Linked DNA regions of Homo sapiens. The protein of the gene in region 1 interacts with the protein of each later gene in a pairwise test. Each region holds a gene or a part of one and is shown in the gene's direction. Other genes may lie near its edges. The genes, in order: KIF24, CEP97 and RANBP3L.

Region 1 (6,075 bases):
TTCATGCTAGCCCTGTGAAAGGAACTGTGCGCTCTGGACATGTGGCCAAAAAAAAGCCAGAAGAGTCAGCACCATTGTGCTCTGAGAAAAATCGAATGGGCAACAAAACTGTCCTTGGGTGGGAAAGCAGGGCCTCAGGCCCAGGAGAAGGCCTAGTGCGTGGTAAGCTGTCCACCAAGTGCAAGAAAGTGCAGACAGTGCAGCCAGTACAGAAGCAGCTTGTGTCTCGAGTTGAGCTCTCCTTTGGCAACGCCCACCACAGGGCTGAGTACAGTCAAGACAGCCAGAGGGGCACGCCTGCTAGGCCTGCCTCTGAAGCTTGGACAAACATCCCGCCACATCAGAAGGAGAGGGAGGAACATCTGCGTTTCTATCACCAGCAGTTCCAACAGCCACCTCTCCTCCAACAGAAGTTAAAATACCAACCACTGAAAAGGTCTTTACGCCAGTACAGGCCCCCAGAGGGTCAGCTCACGAATGAGACTCCGCCTCTGTTCCACTCTTACTCTGAAAACCATGATGGAGCCCAAGTAGAGGAACTTGATGACAGTGATTTCAGTGAAGATTCTTTTTCACACATCTCTAGTCAGAGGGCCACAAAGCAAAGGAACACCCTGGAGAATAGCGAAGACTCATTCTTCCTGCACCAGACGTGGGGACAGGGTCCTGAGAAGCAGGTGGCAGAAAGACAGCAGAGTCTGTTTTCTAGCCCCAGGACAGGTGACAAGAAAGATCTAACTAAAAGCTGGGTGGACTCCAGGGACCCCATAAACCACAGAAGAGCAGCACTCGATCACAGCTGCAGCCCAAGTAAGGGGCCCGTGGACTGGAGCAGAGAGAACTCTACTTCCTCAGGGCCTTCTCCCAGAGACAGCCTGGCAGAGAAGCCATACTGTTCACAGGTAGATTTCATATATAGACAGGAAAGAGGTGGAGGCTCTTCCTTTGATCTCAGAAAGGATGCCTCCCAAAGTGAGGTTTCTGGGGAGAATGAGGGCAACTTGCCATCCCCAGAGGAAGATGGTTTCACTATCTCATTGTCCCACGTTGCAGTTCCTGGATCCCCAGACCAAAGAGACACAGTCACCACACCTCTGAGAGAAGTCAGTGCAGACGGCCCAATCCAGGTGACCAGCACTGTGAAAAACGGTCATGCTGTCCCAGGAGAGGATCCTAGGGGGCAGTTAGGCACGCATGCTGAATATGCTTCTGGACTCATGTCTCCCCTCACCATGTCCCTCCTGGAGAACCCAGACAACGAAGGGTCTCCTCCCTCGGAGCAGCTGGTCCAGGATGGGGCTACGCACAGTCTAGTGGCAGAGAGCACAGGGGGCCCAGTTGTGAGCCACACAGTGCCATCTGGTGATCAAGAGGCAGCCTTGCCAGTGTCTTCAGCAACTAGGCACCTGTGGCTGTCCTCATCTCCCCCTGATAATAAGCCTGGTGGTGATCTTCCAGCTCTGTCCCCATCACCCATCCGTCAGCACCCAGCTGACAAGCTGCCCAGCAGGGAGGCAGACCTAGGAGAGGCCTGCCAGAGCAGAGAGACTGTACTTTTCTCCCACGAACACATGGGTAGTGAGCAGTATGATGCTGATGCAGAGGAGACGGGGCTGGATGGCTCCTGGGGTTTCCCAGGAAAGCCCTTCACCACCATACATATGGGGGTACCCCATTCTGGACCTACACTCACCCCACGAACAGGAAGTAGTGATGTGGCTGACCAGCTCTGGGCCCAGGAGAGAAAACATCCTACAAGGCTTGGTTGGCAGGAGTTTGGTTTGTCCACAGACCCCATCAAGTTGCCCTGCAACAGTGAAAATGTCACATGGCTCAAACCCAGGCCGATCTCAAGGTGCTTAGCAAGGCCAAGTTCTCCCTTGGTTCCCAGCTGCTCTCCCAAGACTGCAGGGACACTCCGTCAGCCCACCCTGGAGCAAGCGCAGTAAGTTGGACACTTTCCCTAAGACTTGAGCCCCTTTGGCACCCACCCTCCACTCCAGCTTACTGTTTTGTCATGGACAAAGAGAAGCCATGCAGGGGTACGCAGGTGAGCTAGTCTGCTTCTAGCTCCAACCCTCTGCTTTGGTCCCGGGCCCTCCACAGGAAGTAGAAATGATAGCAGACCAGGCAATAGGCTCCATCTTGTGCCAAGTATGCCAGTTGCAGTCACAGCCTTGAGAGCCTTTCTGCAGGGAAGCTGTGGGAAATGGGCAGCTCCTGTGGAAGAGCAGCAGCACCCAGCCCTGCCCCCTCAGTACAGCTGGGGAGGCAGGAGACAACTTGGGAAGCCCCTGTCTCCCTCCCTGTATCTCGTTGGTACTCCGTAATTCCTTACCTAATCCTGAGAAAGAGCAGGTGAGGGGGAGCTGGTTGGTAAGCTGGCCTTGGTGAAAACCTTGACCATTTTCGGCAGAGGCAGCTCTCAGCTTACAAATGAGATCACCTCCAGAAAGCTACCCAGGAGAGGCTGGGAGGCCAGGAAGATCACAGTGTTCTCTCTGGTGTTCCCAGGCAGGTGGTCATCCGAGCACACCAGGAACAGCTGGATGAAATGGCTGAGCTCGGCTTCAAGGAGGAGACGCTGATGAGCCAGCTGGCTTCTAATGTAAGTAGCCCTGGCTGGACACTCACAGGCTGTTGGGAATTAGCCTGCAGCTAATTTGATGGTCATCCTTGTTTGCTGTGGCTGTGTGTGGGGAAAGGGTCTCCTGGCACACACTAACCATAACTGAGGCCTCACACCTCCTCTTGCCACGCCTTTGAGACATCTTGAGTATAGGTACAGGTGGGAGATGGTGCAACACTCGCCTTTTCCAGGCTAAAATGTTTCCAGCCTCTATCCTCAGCTGCTCTGCCTTCCTAGCGGTTTGTCGGGGCCCCTCCCTGTGACTAACAGTGACCAGTCTGCTGCCTACCACACGTAGGTATTTCTACCAAATACCCTTCTGCCTTACAAAATACTCCTCTGCTTGGAAAGTGTCTCGAATGCAGAGCAGCAGGCCCCACCCTGTGCCATAGCAACTATCCTACATGTTCTCCCGCTGGAAGAGTGGCCTGGGTTCTGAAACTTTCCTGCCAGAGGAGGGACTGAAAAAGCAGATCTGGCAGAGCGCCAGCAAGAGCAAAAGCTGTATTCGTCCCTTGTTTCCTTCTCAGGATTTTGAAGATTTTGTGACCCAGCTGGATGAAATCATGGTTCTGAAATCCAAGTGTATCCAGAGTCTGAGGAGCCAGCTGCAGCTCTATCTCACCTGCCACGGGCCCACCGCAGCCCCTGAGGGAACAGTGCCGTCTTAGAGCCAGACCCTGTGCCGAGATGGTGGGGGCCCTGCAGGAGTCTGTGCTGGGCTCTCAGGCTGGAGGAGCCTCTGCCAGGTCCTCCCTGCACACACCAGAACCCACACGCTGGTCCTGCCTATGCTAGCGTCACCCCAGCCCCACGTGGCTTCAGATAGGTCCCAGCTTCTCCCTCAGGGACAGGCCCCTGTCCCTCAGTTCCATGCACAGGAGTGCCTCCAAGGGTGGGCCAGGCCGAAGAACCTAATGCCTTTCCCTTGTGCCTAGAGAATATGATTAACTAACCCCTTGCCTGTGGGAATATATTTGGGTCTAATAACCCTGAAGTTTCTAAGTTTGGGGATCAGAGGATGGGGTGGTCAGTGGTAGCCTAGAGGTCAGAGGTCACAAGACAGAGAAGACAACATGCTGAGACCAGAGGCTTCACCAGCTGAATTCTGTGCCTAACTTAGAAGACTAAACACTGGCCCAAACTTAACCATTGGTGCTAGGGGGACAGGGGTGGGGTGAGCTCTGCCCCATCAGCCCTTGGAGATTGATTTGGGGATTTAGAGGCGTTTTTGAAAATGTAAATAGCATAAACCTTGACTTGATGTGTCACTGACAGCAGCAGATGTGAGACAGGCCTTATATTTACAGCTCCCTTCCCTTCCTGCAATCCAGTGTTGAGGCAGAAGAGGGTGCCTGTGTCACACATCAATTTTTCTCCTGACTTTTGCTCGGGTGAAAGGCCTCTGTACAATGCCCGATACTCTCATGCTTCCATGGCAGCTCCTGGCTCCTATCTGGGACACCTCACTACCCAGCCCCCTCATGGAATAGTCCATCTCCTAGCCTGGCCTTCATCCAGTTCACCCTGCCCAGCCACCCTGCCTCTCAGGGGTCTGTGTTGGGAACCTTGGCAGTTGAACAGAGTGCTCTGTTCAACAGTCTGAGGCCTCTGAAACAGAATTCACACACAAACCTTCAGCCAAGTTCTGCCTGCTGTGTATCTTTTTAGCAGGAAGCAGCTCAGGACAGGGAAGACAAAGTAGCCTCCAGGTGCCAATTACTTTAAAGCCACTCTGGGTCAAATGGAGATTCATGAGTCACGGCCTTGGCCCGAACGCCCATTACTATGTGAGCCTTTATTTCCTTCAGATAAAGGATAACTTTTTACGGTTTTAAAAGGAGGGCTTAATTAAAAGGCCAAGAAGAGGGTTAAATGGCTCTCTTGAGACACTAGCAGCCTGGTCCAGTCACCCTTTGTCAGCCTGACAGTGCCTCATCTGACCGCCAGGGGGCATCCTTATTGGTGCTTCCCGGCTGCAGGGCACTGCGGCCCCTCCCTCACATGATCACTAAAAACCTTCAAAGACCCAGTCTAGCCAAAAGCTCAAGTGGGACAATGGCACAGTATTAAGGTCAAGGACAAAAACTTACTTACTTTAGGAATGAACCCTATTCTATCATCATATACAACAGCACCACTGAGAGCTGGTGAAACAGTTTAAATCCCATCCTCTGCTTGTGGCAAATGATGCATAAATGCCTGCTGCTCACAGTAAAAGGGCTTCTTCCTCTTTTACTGGGTGATCCCCCTGAAGGCCCAGCCTATCCCAACTCCACAGTCAGGAAGGCCTACGTCCTTGGTCCACAGACGGAGCTGGGCCAGGTTTAAAAGACTCAGTCTAGGCTTGCCTTTGCAAACCAAAAACGAGGACAGGTCTGAAGTGGGAAGAAAGCTCCGAAATAGAAAACGGTTAGGTCCTATTCTATCCCCAGCAAATCTAAGCAAGAAATCTCTTTATACACCACATGGCCCCCCCACTCCCATAAAACAGCCTTGGTAATAAAGAAGTTATCACACCAAGACATACCTTTTAGATTTTTATTAGTAGTTCTCTCTGAAGAATCAAAATAGTTAGTTAGCAAATTATTTTAGATTCAAGACTGTATATCCTTTGTATTTAGATCTTTAATGATGTACAACATAATACAAAACAAACCAGAGAGACTGATTTCTATGACTAGGTGTTATTCATTGTGTCATCCTAAAGCAGTGGGCTGGAGGGGAAGCTGTTCAAGGAGAACAGAGGTGGAGTTAGTGCTGGCCAACTAAATCATGGCCTGTCTGCTTACCCATTCAATGTGCTGGGAAGGGGCCAATGATTTCTTAAACTGTTTCCTAGAGCAGGGGCTCTAAAACCCTGGGTAGCAGAGGACTGTGGTCCAAACCAAGCCAAAAGAAACAGGCTGGGGTAGGGAAGCATGGTGACTGCCTGGCAGAAAAGGCAAACTCTGGGCCCCATAGGGAAAAGTGCATTCTTTGCACCTCAGAGATATTGCAGAACCAGTGTTAACACTATGAGACTTTGTTAGGAGGGGAAAAAATAAAACCCTGGAAGAATCTTTCACTTGAACTCAACTTGACTGGAGTTCAGTCCACCAGTCTCAGGGGAAGGGGGAAGCACCTAGCTCCACAGCAGCACTGAGTCTGGCCCTCCCGCCCCATCTCCCCAGCCCCTCTCAGCAACTAGGCCAGGCTTCAGCTGAGGACATAAACACCCCAGAAAGACTAGGGTAGTCTCTCCGGAGGGCTGAAGTGGGAAGGACACTTCTCAAAATGCAAATGCGTTTAATACGGAAGGAGCCAGGACAGTTCTGGGGGCACTCACATGCCCGAATCTTCCCCACCTCCCCAGCTCAGGGCCTAGGCTCACAGAGACTGGCGAGCAGTCTCCACACCTGACCTTCTAACCCCCAAAAGAAAATCCGGAAGCTGCCCCTTCTCTT
Region 2 (8,686 bases), on another chromosome or scaffold:
CCTTTGACATATTCCTCTCCCTTTTGTATTTTCTGTAAATTGGATATGGATGTTTGTTCAGATTCAGGTTTGATTTTTTTTTTTTTTTTGAGGGGTGGACTATAAGGTTGGTGGACTATAAGGTTGACAGGTATGATTATAGCGCACTATAGCCTCACACACCTGACCTCAAGTGATCCTCCCACCCCAACTCCTGAGTAGCTGAGATTACACATGCCACCATGCCCGGCTAGTTTTTTTTTTTCTTTTAACTGTCATTATGAACTAATGGATTCAAATGCAGTTCATCTATTTAGGCATTTCAGTGTGACAGAATGAATGGGGAGAATACTCATTGCTTCCTTGAAAATGATTTAAAAATATTTGGCACCATTAGTCCAAGCTCAATGGAAGTGCCCCTAAGCAAGAAAAAGGGTTTGAAACATTATTAGAATGGTGAATATGAGTCAGAATGATAGATTTTTTAAAAAAATTGAGTGAATTTTATTTATGAAAAACATACAATGGTGCTATAAAGGTAAGTTAACAAGGAAGATCATTGTTGCCTGACAATGTGTGTTGACTATTCTCATGCCATCTCCTCTTTTTTATGTTCCCCAATTCCAGTTTGAAAGCTGAATGGCTCTATAGTCAAGGCAAGGGGAGAGCATATCGGCCTGGCCAGCACATCCAGCTTGTCCAATATCTGGCTACAGTCTGCCCCCTCACTTCTACACTAGGTCTTCAAACTGCAGAGGATGCCAAACTAGAGAAGATTTTGAGCAAACAGAGGTAAGCCCATTTATTTCTAACAACTGATGAATTCACAAGTTAAAATACCTCTGAGTCTTTGCTATGGTGATAGTAAGCCTGAGGCAAGTGCTGCGGCCCACATTTCTGGACACTCAGTCCCCTTGTCACTGCAACAGTTCCTGCAGGGAAGCTGAATCGTGCACTGCAAACAGCCAAACAATATGGTATGGAGGAATAGAGGGGTTTTTTTGTTTTAAAGACAGGGTCTTGGTCTCTTGGTCTGTGAGTACAGCAGTGCAGTCATAGGTCACTGCAGTTGCAACTACAGGTGCATGCCACCATGGTTGGCTAATTTTTTGTAGAGATGAGGTCTCACTTTGTTCCTCAGTCTGATTTTAAACTCTTGGCTTCAAGCAGTTCTCCTGCTTCGGCCTCCTAAAGTGCTAGGATAATAGGTATGAGCTACTACACCAGGAAACGGGATAGGATTTTTAAAAAATATATTTGTTCTTTTTTTTTTTTTAAGACATAATATCACTCTGTTGCCCAGGCTGGAGTGCTGTGGTGTGATCTCAGCTCATTGCAACCTCCATCTCCCAGTTCAAATGATTCTCGGGTCTAAGCCTCCTGAGTAGCTGGGATTACAGGCATGCGCCACCACACCTAGCTAATATTTTATTTTTAGTAGAGATGGGTTTTTGCCATGTTAGCCAGGCTGGTCTTGAACTCCTAACCTCAGGTGATCTGCCCGCCTTGGCCTCCCAAAGTGCTGGGATTACAGTCATGAGCTACTGCGTCTGCCACCCCTCCCCCTTTTTTCTTTTTTGAGGCAGGAGCTCACTTTGTCACCCAGGTTGGAGTGCAGTGGTGTGATCTCAGCTCCTTGCATCTTCAGTCTCCTGGGCTCAAATGATCCTCCCTCTTCAGACCCCCTTCAGTCCGTGCCTGTAGCTGGGACTACAGGCACGCACCACCAAGCCTCGGCTAATTTTTTATATTTTTTGTAGAGATGGGGTTTCATCATGTTGCTCAGGCTGATCTTGAACTCCTGAGCTCCAGCGATCCACCTGCCTTGGCCTCCCAAAGTGCTGGGATTACAGGTGCGCGACACCGTGCCCGACCTATTTGTTCTTTAATGTAGGTGTTTCTTGTGGGTTTTTGAATACTTAAGAGGTATATCTGCCTTCAAAGGGTACAGTGAAAAAAAAGAGAAAAAGTATTGCCAGAAGCATTTAATATTTACTTTCTTTATCAGAGATCCTGCCTTTAAATGTTTTTGTATGTGTGTATGTGTGCATAGTAGGGTCTGTCTTTGCAATTACAAAATAAGCTTCTTAACTTTCTTTATCCAGTGCTTTCAAATGAGGATTTATAATTTGGCATTAATTAAAAGTACCTACTTTGAGAACTTGTAAACTTCTGCCTTTTTGACATTGTTACCTAGGAAGCAGAAAATCTTTCTTTTTTTGGTTTGTGTTAAATTAGACCAGGTATTATTGATTTTTAGGTTTCACCAGAGGCAGTTGATGAACCAAAGCCAAAATGAAGAGTTGTCTCCTCTTGTTCCTGTTGAAACAAGGGCATCCCTTATTCCTGAGCATTCAAGCCCTGTTCAAGATTGCCAGATATCCCAGGAAAGTGGTAAGAAATGAATTTATCTCTGATCCCTTTTCTCCAAGTTGTTTAATTTGTCGGGTATCATAAAGCAGAAAAAGGTGCATATTTTCATAATTTTTTGTTAGTTTACTAACTTCAGTAATCATTTAGATCTTATACATATCTATGTATAAACACACCTATATATGTATGTATATTATAACTGCTATATTTCTAATTTTAAGAAACATTTCAAGGACTACTACCTTTTATATAGACCTGATGCTTTGATTATTCTTATGATTATCACAAGAATTCATTTTCTTAAAAATGTTTGGTTTGATGTTTTCGGCATATTGGAAGAAGTCACTGAGGGGATTTTTTTGCATTTTACTCTATTTCAAGGAATAGATTTCATTAAAGGGACATAACTAAAATGTAAACATTTAGTGGTTTAAATGATACTCTGTTGATTCTTCTAGAACCCGTCATTCAAGTGAATTCTTGGGTTGGGATAAACAGTAATGATGATCAGTTATTTGCGGTTAAGAATAATTTTCCAGCCTCTGTACACACTACGAGATATTCTCGAAATGATCTGCACCTGGAAGACATACAGACGGATGAGGACAAGTTAAACTGTAGTCTTCTCTCTTCAGAGTCTACTTTTATGCCAGTTGCATCAGGACTGTCTCCACTATCACCTACAGTTGAGCTGAGGCTGCAGGGCATTAACTTGGGCCTAGAAGATGATGGTGTTGCAGATGAATCTGTGAAAGGGCTGGAAAGCCAGGTGTTGGATAAGGAAGAGGAACAGCCTTTATGGGCTGCAAATGAGAATTCTGTTCAAATGATGAGAAGTGAAATCAATACAGAGGTAAATGAGAAAGCTGGACTATTACCTTGTCCTGAGCCAACAATAATCAGTGCTATCTTGAAGGATGATAACCACAGTCTTACATTTTTTCCTGAGTCAACTGAGCAGAAACAATCAGACATAAAGAAACCAGAAAATACACAACCAGAAAATAAAGAAACCATATCTCAAGCAACTTCAGAGAAACTTCCCATGATTTTAACCCAGAGATCTGTTGCTTTGGGACAAGACAAAGTTGCCCTTCAGAAATTAAATGATGCAGCCACCAAGCTTCAGGCCTGTTGGCGGGGATTTTATGCCAGGAACTACAACCCTCAAGCCAAAGATGTGCGTTACGAAATCCGGCTACGCAGAATGCAAGAGCACATTGTCTGCTTAACTGATGAAATAAGGAGGTGGGTCAGAAGTCCTTTTGATGCACTGTTTTGTTGGTTTGAGGGTGTTAGATTCTTATAGTTGATTCAGAACACTGTGCTTCTGTGATTATAACACTTTTCACACAATGTAGCCACTGTTGCTTTGGTTGTCTCCTACAGTGTACCGAAAGCATCTGGAGAGCAGACACTATCTGCTCTATCTCCTCATCTCCATCCCCAGCAAAGCACTTGATACATAGATGCAGTGTAGTAATAAATGTTCAATGAACGTGAGCTTTATAGGGATCTATAATTCTAAACATAGAAAGGTACAGAAAACATTGAAAAACCAAGTATAAAAATGAGAAGATGATGAAGTCTACATGGAATTCAGTACATGACATAAGAAATAAAGAAAATAGCAGGGATTCAGAAGGGGCTAAAATTCTATATGACTACAATAGGAATTATTCCTTAATCCCATGGCTCGTATGTTTTACTGACTGCTAGCCCAGGAAAGTTAGGATTTCATTAATATTGCAACTAGTAATATTTACTGGTATTATCAGGTAGAAGAGAAAGAGGCAGCAAAGGATACTGAGAAGGGACAGCCAGAGTGGTAGGAAAACTAGGAGAGTTCCACCTTCAACAGGAGCAAGTGTTTCAGGAGAGATGAGAGGTGCCACAGAGAGGACACAGGCATTAAACTTGGCAGTTGGAGGCTATTGGTGACTGTGTTGGTGATTCTCCAGACTATCCTCAGGTTGGATGATTTGCTAAAAGGACTCACAGAACTTGGGAAAATACTATTCTGTTCGTCATTATGGTTCATTACAGCAAAAGGATACAGATTAGAATCAGTAAAGAAAAAAGGTGCCTAGGGCAGAGTCTAGGAGACATGAGGTGCAAGCTTCCAGTTGTTCTCTTTCAGTGGAGTTGTACAGACAGGGCTTAATTTTCTCAGCAATGATGTATGATAACACATATGAAGTATTGCCAACTGACGAAAGTTACCTCATCTTTGGTGTCCAGGGTTTTTATTGTGGGCCAGTCACATAGGTATTGAGTACCCATGTAACTGATCTTAACTATTTACACCTCAGACCACATAGAGGTCACACTGATACTCCATGGCCCAGGACCCAGGACCCCAGGCGAACAAAACAGATGTTGACTAGAAATCATTGATTGCCTAAACTATCTGATGTGACCAAGACCCCAGGTGTATAAAGATATTCTTTTTCAGTCAGGATATTCCAAGGGCTTGGAGATTATCTCCCAGGAGTCAGTCAAGGGCCAGTCTTATCTTTGCAATGTACAGTGTTTGAACATCCCCATCCTGCTGAGTTAACTCTTTACTGCACAGTGACCTTCCCAAGAGCAGCTTCAGTGGTGTAGAGGGATGAAGGCCATTTTGGAATGGGTTGAATAGTGAATGAGAGGTAAAGAGTTTGAAGGATGAGTGTAGCCAATTCTTGGAAAGAGTTGTTTTGAGGAAAACAAGAGAAAAGAGAGTTAAGTGGTGTCTGGAGGAGAATCTAGATTAAAGGAACATTCTCTTTTGTAGATGAGAGATATAGAGTTTGTTCATGTGTTGATGGAATGAATAAATAAGGAGGGAAAAACTGATGGTGCAGCAAAAAAAAAAAAAAAAAAAAAAAAGAGGAAGAGCAGGATTGCAGTTCTTGAGAAGGTAAGAGAGGAAGAAATGTAGTGTCGAAGTAGAGGAAGTGGCCTGAAATGGGAGCAGGAGCAGGTAAGGTGGTAGGTTTGATGGTGGGAGATGGGAAAAAGTCCTGTCTGATGCTGCTTCTTTTTCAATAATGTATAAGATGTGGTCAACACCTGAAAATGAGGAGAGGGTGAAGGAGGTGTAAGGAGAGAAGTATGAGGTGTGAGGTAGTTATCTTAAACATGACCTTATGAGGAAAATGGAGGAGGGTTGCTGGACAATGTGAGAAAATGCTTAAAAGTGCAAAACAATAGGTCAGGTTGTATGATTTTCATCAGCAATTCTTAGCTGCTCTGGTCTGATTCAGGCATGGTTAATTTGGTTCAGCCAGGAATGATTTTTTTTCCTAGGTGATATTGTAGAGAGAGCAGGGGAAGGGCAAGAGAGCTGAAGATATTTGAGAGGGAGTAATAATGATAGATCTTAGATTTTATATGTTTTTTGAGATGGGGTCTTGCCCTCTTGCTGAGGCTGGAGTGTAGTGGCGTGATCATAGCTCACTGTAATCTTGAACTCCTGGGTTCAAGTGATTCTCCCACTTGAGGCTCCCAAGTAGCTGGGACTATAGGCATGCACCACCATGCCCAGCTAATTAAAAAAAATTTTTTTAAAGAGATGAAGTCTATGTTGCCCATCTGGTCTTGAACTCCTGGCCTCAAGCAGTCCTCCTGCCTCAGCCTCCTAAAGTTCTGGGATTACAGGTGTGAATTACCTTGCTGACTGGAATTTTATTTTTATTTTTTATCTAAAAAAATTTTTTTTTGAGATGGAGTCTTGCTCTTGTCACCCAGGCTGGAGTGCAATGGTGCGATCTCAGCTCATTGCAACCTCTGCCTCCCAGGTTCAGGTGATCCTCCTGCCTCAGCCTCCCGAGTAGCTGGGATTACAGGCACCTGCCACATGCCCAGCTAATTTTTTTTTTGCATTTTTAGTAAAGACAGGGTTTCACCATGTAGGCCAGGCTGGTCTCAAACTCCTGACCTCAGGTGATCCTCCTGCCTGGGCCTCCCAAAGTGCTGGGATTACAGGTGTGAGCCACTGTGCCCAGGCTGGCTGGAATTTTAAATGAGGTAAAAGGGAAGTGAAGGCAGGGGGGAAGGATCATTGGACTGAAGGTCTAGATTGTTGCAGTGGGGTACAACAGCAAGTGAACTGGGAGGATAGGAAGTAGTGGTTGGTGTTGGGTGCTTAGAACCATTTCTGAAAGTAGTGTAGTCAAAATGATTTGGTCTAGGGTGAGACTATGAGAATGGGTGACTGACATGGGGTGGATTATTGTTAGAGCATCCATGTGAATGTTGAGGTCTCCAAAAACGATGACAGGTATGGGGCAAAGAGAAAGCCTGGTGCTGAGACTTCATTGAATGGGAGCAGATGGTGGGAGGTCAGTACTTGACAACGAATTTTGGGAAATTTAGCAGGATGGCAGGAGTTAAAGGAGGGAGATGAAGAATCATTTGAAAACAATAGTGAGAAGCAATTTTTGAACCCTGATGTGTGACAGGGAAAAATAGCTTCCACTTCAGAGGGCTATAGTGCTCTCAGAAGTGGGTCTGCTTTGGACAAGGAAAAGTTCAGAGAGAGATGGAGTATATAAGGGAGTTTGCTAATTATAATTCAGGAGTTCTAGATGGCACAGGAGAAAGGCTTGGGGGGCTAGAGAAAGTGGAGAATTGGGTCAGAGGTGTGGAACAAAATGGTCTTGACAGTTTGGGTGATAATGGATCACTAAAGGAGGAGCCTTAGGTTTGTGATAGGCCTAAGTATGGAGAGAACAGCAGTGAGCCCAGACCTCAGACTTTGATGAATGAATGAGGAATAATGGATGGGAGGTCTCTTGTTAGCAAGGAGTAGGTCGGAGACCTGGGGAAACAGAATAGTGAAGTTTGATGGGATTAGTCTTTAGCAGAGGGTGTTTCAAGCTGGATCACGAGTACTTAAATGTGACCCTTAATTGTTTTGGAGGCTTTGGATAGCCACTCCTTTTTTGCACTTTCTGTTCCTTTGGTTTGTTTGGCTGAGAAATTGAAGCCAGACAAAGAGCCATTTAACATTTTATTTTATTTCTTATTACTGGAAATACTTTGTAGAACTAATACCTGTATTTCAGTCATATCTCCTTTGGCTTCTACTTTGAGTCACAGTTCAAAATTAAGGTTTATGATGTCACTTATAAAACTGTTCCATTTTGATTCTGAGGTTAAAAAAATAAAAATAAAATAAGGTTTTAATTTAGATATTCTAAAAGTGGGAAAGACAACTATTAGATTATTAATCTCTTTACAATGCATGTGTTTATGAGTTGTAACAGGAAGTCTGAGTCAAAGCACCCTTCCTTATGTCAATAATGTGTTTTGAATTATTGTAGATTACGAAAAGAAAGAGATGAAGAACGTATTAAAAAATTTGTACAAGAAGAAGCTTTCAGATTCCTTTGGAACCAGGTAAACTCCCTCCTGCTGATTTACCTCATATATGATCAAATACAGATTCTATATTCATTGAGATAATCATAGAGTACTCAGGTGTATTAAGCACTCTTGTTCAAGGTTAAGGGTATGGCTTGTGTTCTTCGCCACTAACTGTGAACTAGGACAGTGAATTTTCTTGCATTTTATTTAATCTGAAGAAAAATATTCTGACAATTTTGACAAGAAAAACAAAATAGTATAAAGCAGGAGGAAAGTGGCTTAACTGAAGGCTGTTAGAGCTTTCCAATAGATACAACAACCCCAATTTGAAATTTCATGTAGCTATCGATCTGTCTTTTGGGAATATTTGAATGAATTGTGATTAAGATGGTATATGACTACAATATGCATGTCCTAAAAAGTATTCATAACTGTATAGGAGAGTATTTGAATCCTATAATAGCACACTTTAGGGACAGTTTAGGCAGTTGGTTTTACTAGCATTGTATCACATCAAATACTTCTTGATGATAATTTCTTGAAAATATTTTAATAAAATTTTCATTTCTTCTTTTTTATAGAAATGGGGTCTTGCCATATTGCCCAGGCCGGTCTCAAACTTCTGGGCTCAAGCAGTCTTCCCTCCTCAGCCTCCCAAAGTGAGCCACATCACCTGGCCAAATTTGTTATAATAGGATTTGACCTATAAAATGAAAAAATAATTATTGATTTGTAAAGTTTTGTAGTTACCAACAATAGAGGAATGGTTAAATTATAGAATAATAATACTGTGGAATACCATGGAATAGTTAAAAAAAATAAGGTAATGGTATTCACCAACATGGAAAGATCTCCAAAATAATACTGTTTAGTAAAAAAAAAAAACAGCACTAGCGCATTACAGCCTTGAACTCCTCAAGTGATCCTTCTGCTGCAACCTCCCAAGCAGCTGGGACTACAGGCACACACCAGTGTGCTCAGC
Region 3 (9,104 bases), on another chromosome or scaffold:
GTAAAATGACGGTTTGGTTTTCTTTAAATGAGTGCATCATCCTCCCATAAGGTTCAGCCTTCTTCCTCTCTCATGGAGGTCTCTGAACTTGATGGTCATGCACCCCTAGCAACAACAAATGCTTGAGAATATACCCCGATGTGGGTTTGTTTGTATGTTTATAAATCGTATTCATGTAGTACTGCCACACTAATTTGAATGTTAACATTTCAAAATATTTTGTGTGTGAATTGTATAATGTAAAAAGTAAAAAATTAGGAAAAAAATAAAGAGTTTCTGTACACACTCTGATAAATCTAGCACATTGCCTGTTCCTTGTACCCTTTCAATCAGGTTCACTAAAAGTAATTATATTTTAAAGTGCTTTATCACAAAAATTGTAAAAATATGCAAAATTAGACATGAAAGCATTATAAATCCCCATGCACTCATGACTCAGTTTTAATAATTATCTGTTTATGGCCAAATTTATTTCATCTCTATCTCCCCAAATCTCACTCTCCTAGGCTATTTTGAAGCAAATCTCAGATATAGAATAATTTTATTTTTAATACATCAAAATTACATTATAGTCCGCCTAATTAATATAAAAGAAAATCAGTGAAAGAAGAAATGCAAAGAAAAAAGGAAAGAAGGAAGGAAGAAAAGAAAGAAGCAAATAACCAATAAACCAACTAAAAAGGAAAGAAGAAATTATGAGGAAGGGAGTGAGAAACATGGTTTGCTATTATTTTATTCCTGTAAATGCCAATTCAAATGAAGTAGTAAAATTTTGATTTGGTGCAAGCTAATTTGCTTTATTTTGAAACTGATCCCAGTTAGTGCATATTTACCTTCAAAGAGTTAAGTTGTGCTGTAAACCCATTGATTCCAATTCCCAGGTGCTTCAAACACTTCTAGATGGAATTCAGACTCTGTGGGATCATCTGTTCCTACCCAGAGGGTGGTCATTATAGAACCAGAACCACCTTACTCTAGGTTTCCTTGTCACTAAAACAAACAAATAAAATAAAATCTGGCATTTTTCTGACCTATGGTTTTATTTCGTTTTGTTTTCACTGTAGCTAAAACACTTCAATAAAGATAGAAAAATGTAAAACTTCAGAAAGTTAAATACCAGCACATAGCAGTAATCACATTTCACTTACAGGAGGATAATCAGGTAACTTTCCTCCAACCTCAGATACAGACAATCATCTTCTAAGCTCACAAATACAGGACCCCATTCTTGTGGGCACTGGATGAAAAGACATGGGTTTATCTTGTGCCAAGGCCAAGGCTATTTTAATATTAACTGACCTTGGACTCTGCCGACCTCCAGAGGGAGCCCTGAGGCAGCCAAATCTAAGGCTCAGCAGCAAAAGGGCCCAAATTAGTCTGAACTGCCAACGCAATGTTTATGTAGTGAGGCAATATTTATGATAAACATGACCCAAATGTTGGTGTTCAATGGGTTAAAGATCAATTGTAGCAATTTCAGGATAGAGAGCAGCTTTGATAAGTAAGCAGTTTGGTGCTATGCCAGTGTAGTCTCTTGAATCCACGGACAGGAGCAAGTATTCAAGTGAAACTATCTCTACCATTATTTGTGTTTCCTATGTTTTTACAGATGGCAGTTATGGGAATCCAGCCAACAGTGCCACCTGGGAAACTCTATGAGCTAAACACTATAGTACATTGGGGTAATAACATGGCTCTGAATAGCCACGAAAGCCTACCTTTGTGGAGGCTTTACAATATACACCATACATAAGCCACTGTGAGATCCTGAAACTCAACATTCTCATCTATAATATATCTGATTGTGTATTAAGGAAGAGTAATCTGGAAACAAATCAACCACTGCTTGATATAAAGGAGCAGGGGATCTGTTTTTTAAAATCAACAGAAAATCTAAAATCTTGACACTAATTCATCAGCCTTCAACTATAATGATCATTTAATAATTCCTGTAGTACTTTGGGGATCATAATGAGGCTAATCCCAGCCACAGTTTTCATGTTTGCCTGCTGATAGGGGTCTTTAAACTTATTCTCTAAGAATGAGAGTGATAAATTCAATAATATTGCTTTTTATTTATATAGCACCTATCATTCCAAGCAGTCCAAAGGCCTTCAAATAATAGATATACTTGCAGACTAGACATCACAAATGCTTTTGAAACATGGCAGGTTATTAACTAAACAAGTAACTCACTTGTGGACTAATTTTAAATGCATGTGTCCTTGCTTTTTGAATATGGTAACTGAGAAAAGTAAACCCTCCTGTAAACCTAATACCATTTAGCTTGTTCAGCCACACACTGTGCTTTTTGAGGTATAAATTCTAGCAATAAAATATCAATTTTTTGAAGTATCGACCCCCAAAGTGCCAGCTGGTATGATTGATTATCTGTGATGCGCCATTTCACTCTACTCTTCCGGAAGTACAAAGACACAGGTTAAGCAGAGAAGATATGGCAGATAAGGAAAACCCCAGGAAAAGGAAACCAGTGGTATCCTTTTGTGGGGATCACAGAGACTTGATAAGGGAAGAAGTTTGGCCTTTATAGGATTCAAATTCATTTTTAATCAATTGTAAGTAAAAATGCCAAAGATGATTCACCTCTTTCTTGACCCAGCCAGACTTCTGCAATCTGATTTCTTGTTTTCATTTATGCAAAAAAAAGGAACAATATGCCCACTGTGAACTAATTTGGTGATGTTTCTGGAAAGTAAGTGGGGAAAGGGGGAAGCAAAGTAGTCCCCCATCCCACTGTAGCTGATATATCTGAGGTTATCTTATGTACTCCTGTAACGTGCTGCTTTCTGCCATGCTGGATGATTTCCAGTGGAAACTGGTAAATCAAACCAGAGACTCCTTCGAGAACAGCAATGGAACTTAACAGGCAGTGTAGGAACCCAGGATTCCCTTGACTCAGCTAATCCCTCACAAGGCCACTGCCTGGGACTGCCTCGTTGATGCACGAAAGAGGAACCAGTAGCATTCCTTTGTATCCTCCCTGTCCCCTTACGTTGTGGCACTTGAAATTACTGTTTAAGGAGGGTTTGGTTTCTTCGGCCCTCAAGAAAGATGTAATGAATGAAATAGTGGAACAAACCAGCTCCGTTTAAGCAGATAATGCTTGTTTATTTAGACTAGAGGACTTATAAAAATATATAGATTCCAGATTGCACCTTAGGCATCAGACTGTGCAGTTGGGGCTCGGGAATCTACATCTTTACAATATGGCCTAGGTAATTATGATTCTTAGCTAAGTTTGAAAACTGAGGGACTAGATTTTCAAATATACCCCTAAATCCTACCCAGATTTTAGTTTTAAATCTATTTCTTTCTCCTTAGGCTCTAGTCAGAGACAAAGTAGGATACTCCTCCCTTTCCCAGGCCTTTATATCCATAGAATGAGTGTTGAATAATTTATCCCATTGCTTAGCAAACATTTGTTTCATATGCTAAATGAAGACACAAACCCAGAAATGTTAAGTGGCTGGGTCAAGGTTGCACTGTATATGAATGAGAACACCATGGCAAGAAAGCTGGATGTCTTAGCCTCCATGGCCAGATGACCACCCTTTTTTTTTCTCTTTTTTTCCTGAGTAAGAAAAATGGAGGCATCTAGGGGGCTTCCTTGAAAAAATCAGACATAAATTAGGGTAAGTGTAGATGTTCATCTCCAAGCAACATTTCTCTCTGAGATGAACCTATAGATTAAAAAAGACTTGAGAAACATATCAACCAAATACAATGTGTGGACCTTTGGGTCCCAATTTGCAAAAAATGTAAAGATAAAAAAGTTTATGAGACAATCAGGAAAATAAGAACACTGTGTGGATGCTTAATTACATCAAATAATCATATTTAATTGTTATGTGCGTGACTATCTTATTATGGTTATCTATTTTTAAATCCTCACATTTTAGAAATATACACTGAAATATTTATTAATGCAATGATGTCTGGATGCTTCAACTCCAGTGGTGTAATAAGGGGGAGAACAGCTATAATGAAACACATAGTTTTAAGACACGATTGTCTATGAGTTGATAATATTGAAGCCAAGTGATGAGTATGCAGGGCTTATTGTGCTATTCTCTCCTATTCATGTATTTTTAAATTTTTTCATCATAAAACATTTTAAATGTATTTCTCAAAAGGGCTGGCTTACAGTTTTGTAGGTTATTTAACTTACCTGTATAATAATATGCTTATTAGTGAGGTACATAACTTGATAGAATAACAATAACTTTACATATTCAGGAAAAATCACCTTGTCTCTCCACCATGGCTTTTGTGGAAGATGAGATGAATAGCAGACATTTAAAGTAGAAACTATGACTCTCCAATAACAAGACTCTCTTTCAAAGTAGCACAACACTTCTGTCATCTGTTACACTGTGATTAGCCTAAAACTGCAGTAGATAGACTACTGAAACAATTAAAGCATTCAAGAATTATAAAAGATCAATCACCTACTTCATAAAAATTTTCATAAACCAGACTATACTTGGGGAATTGTTAATTGCCTCAAAGTAAAATGAGGGCAGCCACCCAGATCTGGTTAGGAGGTAAATTCATTACAGTGTCAAGTTTAACACCAATTTCCAAATGCACATAAGAAGCTGCAGAGTCCAGACTTCGAGGCTAAACAGCTCTGCCTTTCTCCTTAGTCCTGCCCACTACCTTCTTTCTGAATCTGCGAAGAGCTGTGACTCTTGAAGGGCAGGACCTACCAGCATTCATTATGACTTCAGTTATGGCAAGCTCTCAAGTTAAATTAATGGTGTTTGGGGTTTATGTTTCCAAACAGTAAGGAAATAGCCAACGAGTAAAACTGGAAATTACTTTCTCCTATGACCTAGAAGTAGCAATAAGAACTCTAAGTGGGAAACAGAAATAGGACTCTGGAAAGATAATGTTTTGTGTGTTTATTTTTCTTCCAGAACTCCAAATAGTTGCCTTGGCAGGAAGGCTGCCCTCTAACTGCTCCCTTCCGAAGACTAGGAGGTGTTTACAGAAATTGAAAGTTCCAGCAGTACATTTCCATGAGCTCATTACCAGTTCCATTTATACCTTTTAGATTTCACATGCACAAATGAATGTCCTTGCAGTATAAACTCCTGCTTTCAGCTTGCATTTTAATTACAAACAAAGTAGCAGAAATCAGGTACTCAGTTACTGTAACATAAGGGCAGGGCATCTTTAGAATCTGTGCTTTGTTCACTATTATTCAAAGCAGCTCCAATGCCCGTCTTGCCTGCCTCTTTATGCTAATCATCCTAGCCCACTTTGCTCCTCCTCCTTCCAGAGTCCCTTAAGAACTGTACACTTTCAGCTGTCACAGAGGGTAACTCAGATCAGGCTTAGAAATCACTTGACTTAACTCAGCAGCACTTTTTCTTTTCTTTGTGTCTGTATTATTTTAGCAGCCTTCTCTAAATACTGGAGGCATTGGATTTCATGTCGCCAAAAGGAATTTAAAAATGACAAAAGTGTAATCTGTTAGAAATAGTTAATTTGTAGAATTTTACTCTATAAGGAGGTTTAGTTTCAATTTGTTTTGAAATGAAGGAATTAAGTTGTGTTTTTAACCAAATGAATTGGCATCTTTATATTTAGGAGAAGTAACATTGGTGATTATTTATTTCAAGAATCATGACTGGAAAAAGCTTGGAAGTTTAGTAGAGGAGTATATGTTGTACATGCAAAGACAAGATCTGCATGAATCTATGTATTTCTGGGTGTCTGGTGAAGGCCACTTTAGGTGACTGGCCAGAGAAGGAGGTGCCCTAGTGATCCTTGAGTCACAGCCATACTGCTAGGACCATGACTACCATACCAAGAAAAGGCAGCAGCCACCTGCCTGGCAGTTTGCACACCTGTAAACTGAAGCTGCAGGAGGACCGGCGACAGCAAGGTGAGTCCGTCCAGCTCATGAGTTGCATATTCTGTGACCTTCTGTGCATTTGCATTCCAGGAAGAATGGTGGGCTGGTGAAGGACCCGGGGAAGCTCTGACATAATAGTGATGCATAAGGGTGGGTTAACTTGGATTCACTATTGATTTTTAGAGGACTATGGAAGACTGTCAAGAATGCATATTCCTTGGAGCTGTCATTCTGAAACTTACATGCTTAAACTTCTAGCCACTGTGTTTTTTAGAGTATGCTAGATTTTGTCTAATTCAAAACACCCATCTGAGCAAGGCTGAGTCAGCTACAAGGGGGATTTCAGCTGAGAGTAGCTTTAAGTTAGCCTGGAGCTTTCTCTACCATAGTACCACTGGTGGGACACTTTTTTCACTTTGTTTAAGCCTAAGTTTGTCTGGATCTCTGGCTCATTCATTGTGGGAAAAATAAATATATTCTTGACTCTTTCCTTTTTATGGTCCAGGGACATCTGGAGACAGTCAGGGAAAAGTGTCACATTTCACTTGCTGGGCACTCATTCAAACTAAACTATCTACCTCCCAGCCATTTTCACCATCAGTCTTTTTAAATTTTCAAATCCACTCTCCAGCCAGCTGAGTTAGTGTCAGATGGTTGACATGAATAGACAAGATGATCCCTCCAATCCACCCTGTCAGGGACAGCAAATGACACTTGTGGGAAAGGCTGGGTCTCTCATGGATGACATCATCACTCCACAGAGGTTAAGGATTCACCAGACACTTCTAACTTCTCCTCAATAACCTAGGATAGATCTTTTTATGTGTAGGTCTAGGCAATGAGCTCTTTAATTATTTTTCTGTAGACGCAGTTTTAGATTTCAGTGGTGTGGAGAGTGTTGGCTAAAGGGCCAAAACCTCCCATTTCCAAGATGGAATCTGTGTGCTAACAGTCACATGAATGTGTCAGGCCACCTCTCTGCATCGGTTCCTGGAGCTGTATAACATGACTTCATGCTCTACAAGGCTTAGCATAGTGTCGGCAGAAAATACTTCATGGTAAATGAAAACAATGTGAACTTTTAGACCATGCTTTACTACTAGTGCTCAAATAAATTTTGAACCAAGTACCCTAGAATGTAAAGTCCTGGAATGTGTCAGGGTTAAGGCATAGCACTGTAAAATGCTCTTGCTTCTCTGTTAGTAAACAATTCTAGTTTATCAGAGGTTTTTGTTTTCTGTTGACTTTGTATGAAATGTTAAAGTGACTTCCCCCCACTTCAATTGCTAATATGATAATTTTAATAGAAAATTTGGTGGGGGTGAGCCTAAAGAAGTCACCTGTAACCCCACCACCCAAAGATAATTGCTATTAACATTTTAATGTATAAACTTCTAGACTTTTCTTCTATGCACTTGTATGGATTATTCCTTTGCTTGCTTTTTAAACAATATAGACTTGTTCTGGATACTTTTGTAAACAGTGTTTTGTAAACTGCTTTTTAATTTAATGACAGAGGATGAACAAATTTCCAGGTCATTAAATATTCTTCTACAACCTTATTTTTAACAGTTGCACACTGTTCCTTTATATGGATGTAGCAAAATTCCCTTAGGCAATTCTCTACTGTTAGATATATTATTTATTTCTAATATTTTAACTATTATAATTAACACTGGACTGCACCTAAACTAATGAATAGATCTTTGCACTGATATGGGATTATTTTCTTCGCATAAATTCTTAGAAGTGAAATTGTGGAGTCAAAGGATTATACATTCTTAAAAATTGTTTTTGGCCAAGTGACCCTCCTATCAGCAGTGTTGGGGTATGTTCTCAGTAATACTATTATTTTTTAAACTCCTTCTCAATTTTATAGGTGAAAAATAATACCCCACTATTGTTTTAAGCCAGGCTATCCTGAAGATCTCTCCTTTACTGGCTGTATTAATCAAAGTTCTCTAGAGGGACAGAACTAATAGGATATATACACACACACACACACACACACACACACACATATATGTATGTGTATATATATACAGATATACGTATGTGTATATATGTGTGTATATGTATATAAAGATGAGTTTATTAAGTATTAACTTACACAGTCACAAGGTCCCACAATAGGCTGTCTGCAAACTGAGGAGCAAGGAGAGCCAGTCTGACTCCCAAAACTGAAGAACTTGGAATCCAATGTTCAAGGACAAATAGCAAGAGAGAAAGATGTAGGCTGGGAGGCTAGGCCAGTCACCTTTTCACGTTTTTTTGCCTGCTTTGTATTTGCTGGCAGCTGATTAGATTGTGCCCACTAGATTAAGGGTGGATCTGCCTTCCCCAGCCCAGTGACTTAAATGCTAATCTCTTTTGGCAACGCCCTCACAGACACACCCAGGATCAATACTTTGTATCCTTCAATCCAATCAAGTTGACACTCAGCATGAACCATCACACTGGCAATATCCAGAGAAGCCTGGAAATAATCACTATGATGACATACTTCCCAAAATACCCACAAGACTGGTCTTCTTTCTCAGACTTAGCTTTTTGCCTAGAATGTTTTGAAAGCAAGCATATTCTTCCACACCCAAGTCTCAAAATATCTGCCCACATAAGCCACAATCCATAAAGTTGTGAAGCATGCTAATGCAGTCCAGACTGGCCATTGATTGCTGCAAGAAATATCATCTAGTGATTTGAGCTGGGTAGTATTTGCTGTGTTGCTAAATTGCATTCCAGTTACTGTCCTGGAGTTTTAAAGTATTCATTCAGAGCAGTGGCCCTGCTTTTTCCTCCAAGCTATTTTTGCACCTTGCTATTATGTGAAGTTCAGCAAAGGTCCCAGGAAGCAAAGCCATTTGTTTTAGAGAGTGAGGTCTGGCTTTATTCATGGAATCATCCTGGGTTCACGGCTTTGGCCTTTCCCCAGCCAGCCTAAAGTTCTGCCTCTATTATTTAGCATACAGACTATGATTAATTGACATTCGACACTTCTGTAGGCGTGACTAGCTTCAACACATACATATTTTCTTTTCCTTTTTTTTTTTTTTTTTAAGATGGAGTCTCACTCTGTCACCCAGGCTGGAGTGCAGTGGCATGATCTCGGCTCACTGCAACCTCTGCCTCCCGGGTTCAAGTGATTCTTCTGCCTCCGTCTCCTGAGTAGCTCGGACTACAGGCACACTCCACCATGCCTGGCTAATTTTTTTATTTTTAG

The links.
Region 2: the proteins of KIF24 (region 1) and CEP97 interact in binary tests that used the Homo sapiens proteins (3 or more experiments, as listed by UniProt).
Region 3: the proteins of KIF24 (region 1) and RANBP3L interact in binary tests that used the Homo sapiens proteins (3 or more experiments, as listed by UniProt).

Annotation. Positions count from the first base shown.
Region 1 is NC_000009.12:34,251,605-34,257,679, reverse strand, and holds the end of KIF24 (kinesin-like protein KIF24), read left to right. Parts: coding exon 1-1,945; intron 1,946-2,514; coding exon 2,515-2,608; intron 2,609-3,159; coding exon 3,160-3,300; 3' UTR 3,301-5,300; downstream 5,301-6,075. UniProt on the Homo sapiens protein: Microtubule-dependent motor protein that acts as a negative regulator of ciliogenesis by mediating recruitment of CCP110 to mother centriole in cycling cells, leading to restrict nucleation of cilia at centrioles.
Region 2 is NC_000003.12:101,754,824-101,763,509, forward strand, and holds part of CEP97 (centrosomal protein of 97 kDa), read left to right. Parts: intron 1-606; coding exon 607-771; intron 772-2,239; coding exon 2,240-2,373; intron 2,374-2,810; coding exon 2,811-3,600; intron 3,601-7,661; coding exon 7,662-7,737; intron 7,738-8,686. UniProt on the Homo sapiens protein: Acts as a key negative regulator of ciliogenesis in collaboration with CCP110 by capping the mother centriole thereby preventing cilia formation. Required for recruitment of CCP110 to the centrosome.
Region 3 is NC_000005.10:36,298,136-36,307,239, reverse strand, and holds the start of RANBP3L (ran-binding protein 3-like), read left to right. Parts: upstream 1-5,337; 5' UTR 5,338-5,823; coding exon 5,824-5,914; intron 5,915-9,104. UniProt on the Homo sapiens protein: Nuclear export factor for BMP-specific SMAD1/5/8 that plays a critical role in terminating BMP signaling and regulating mesenchymal stem cell differentiation by blocking osteoblast differentiation to promote myogenic differention.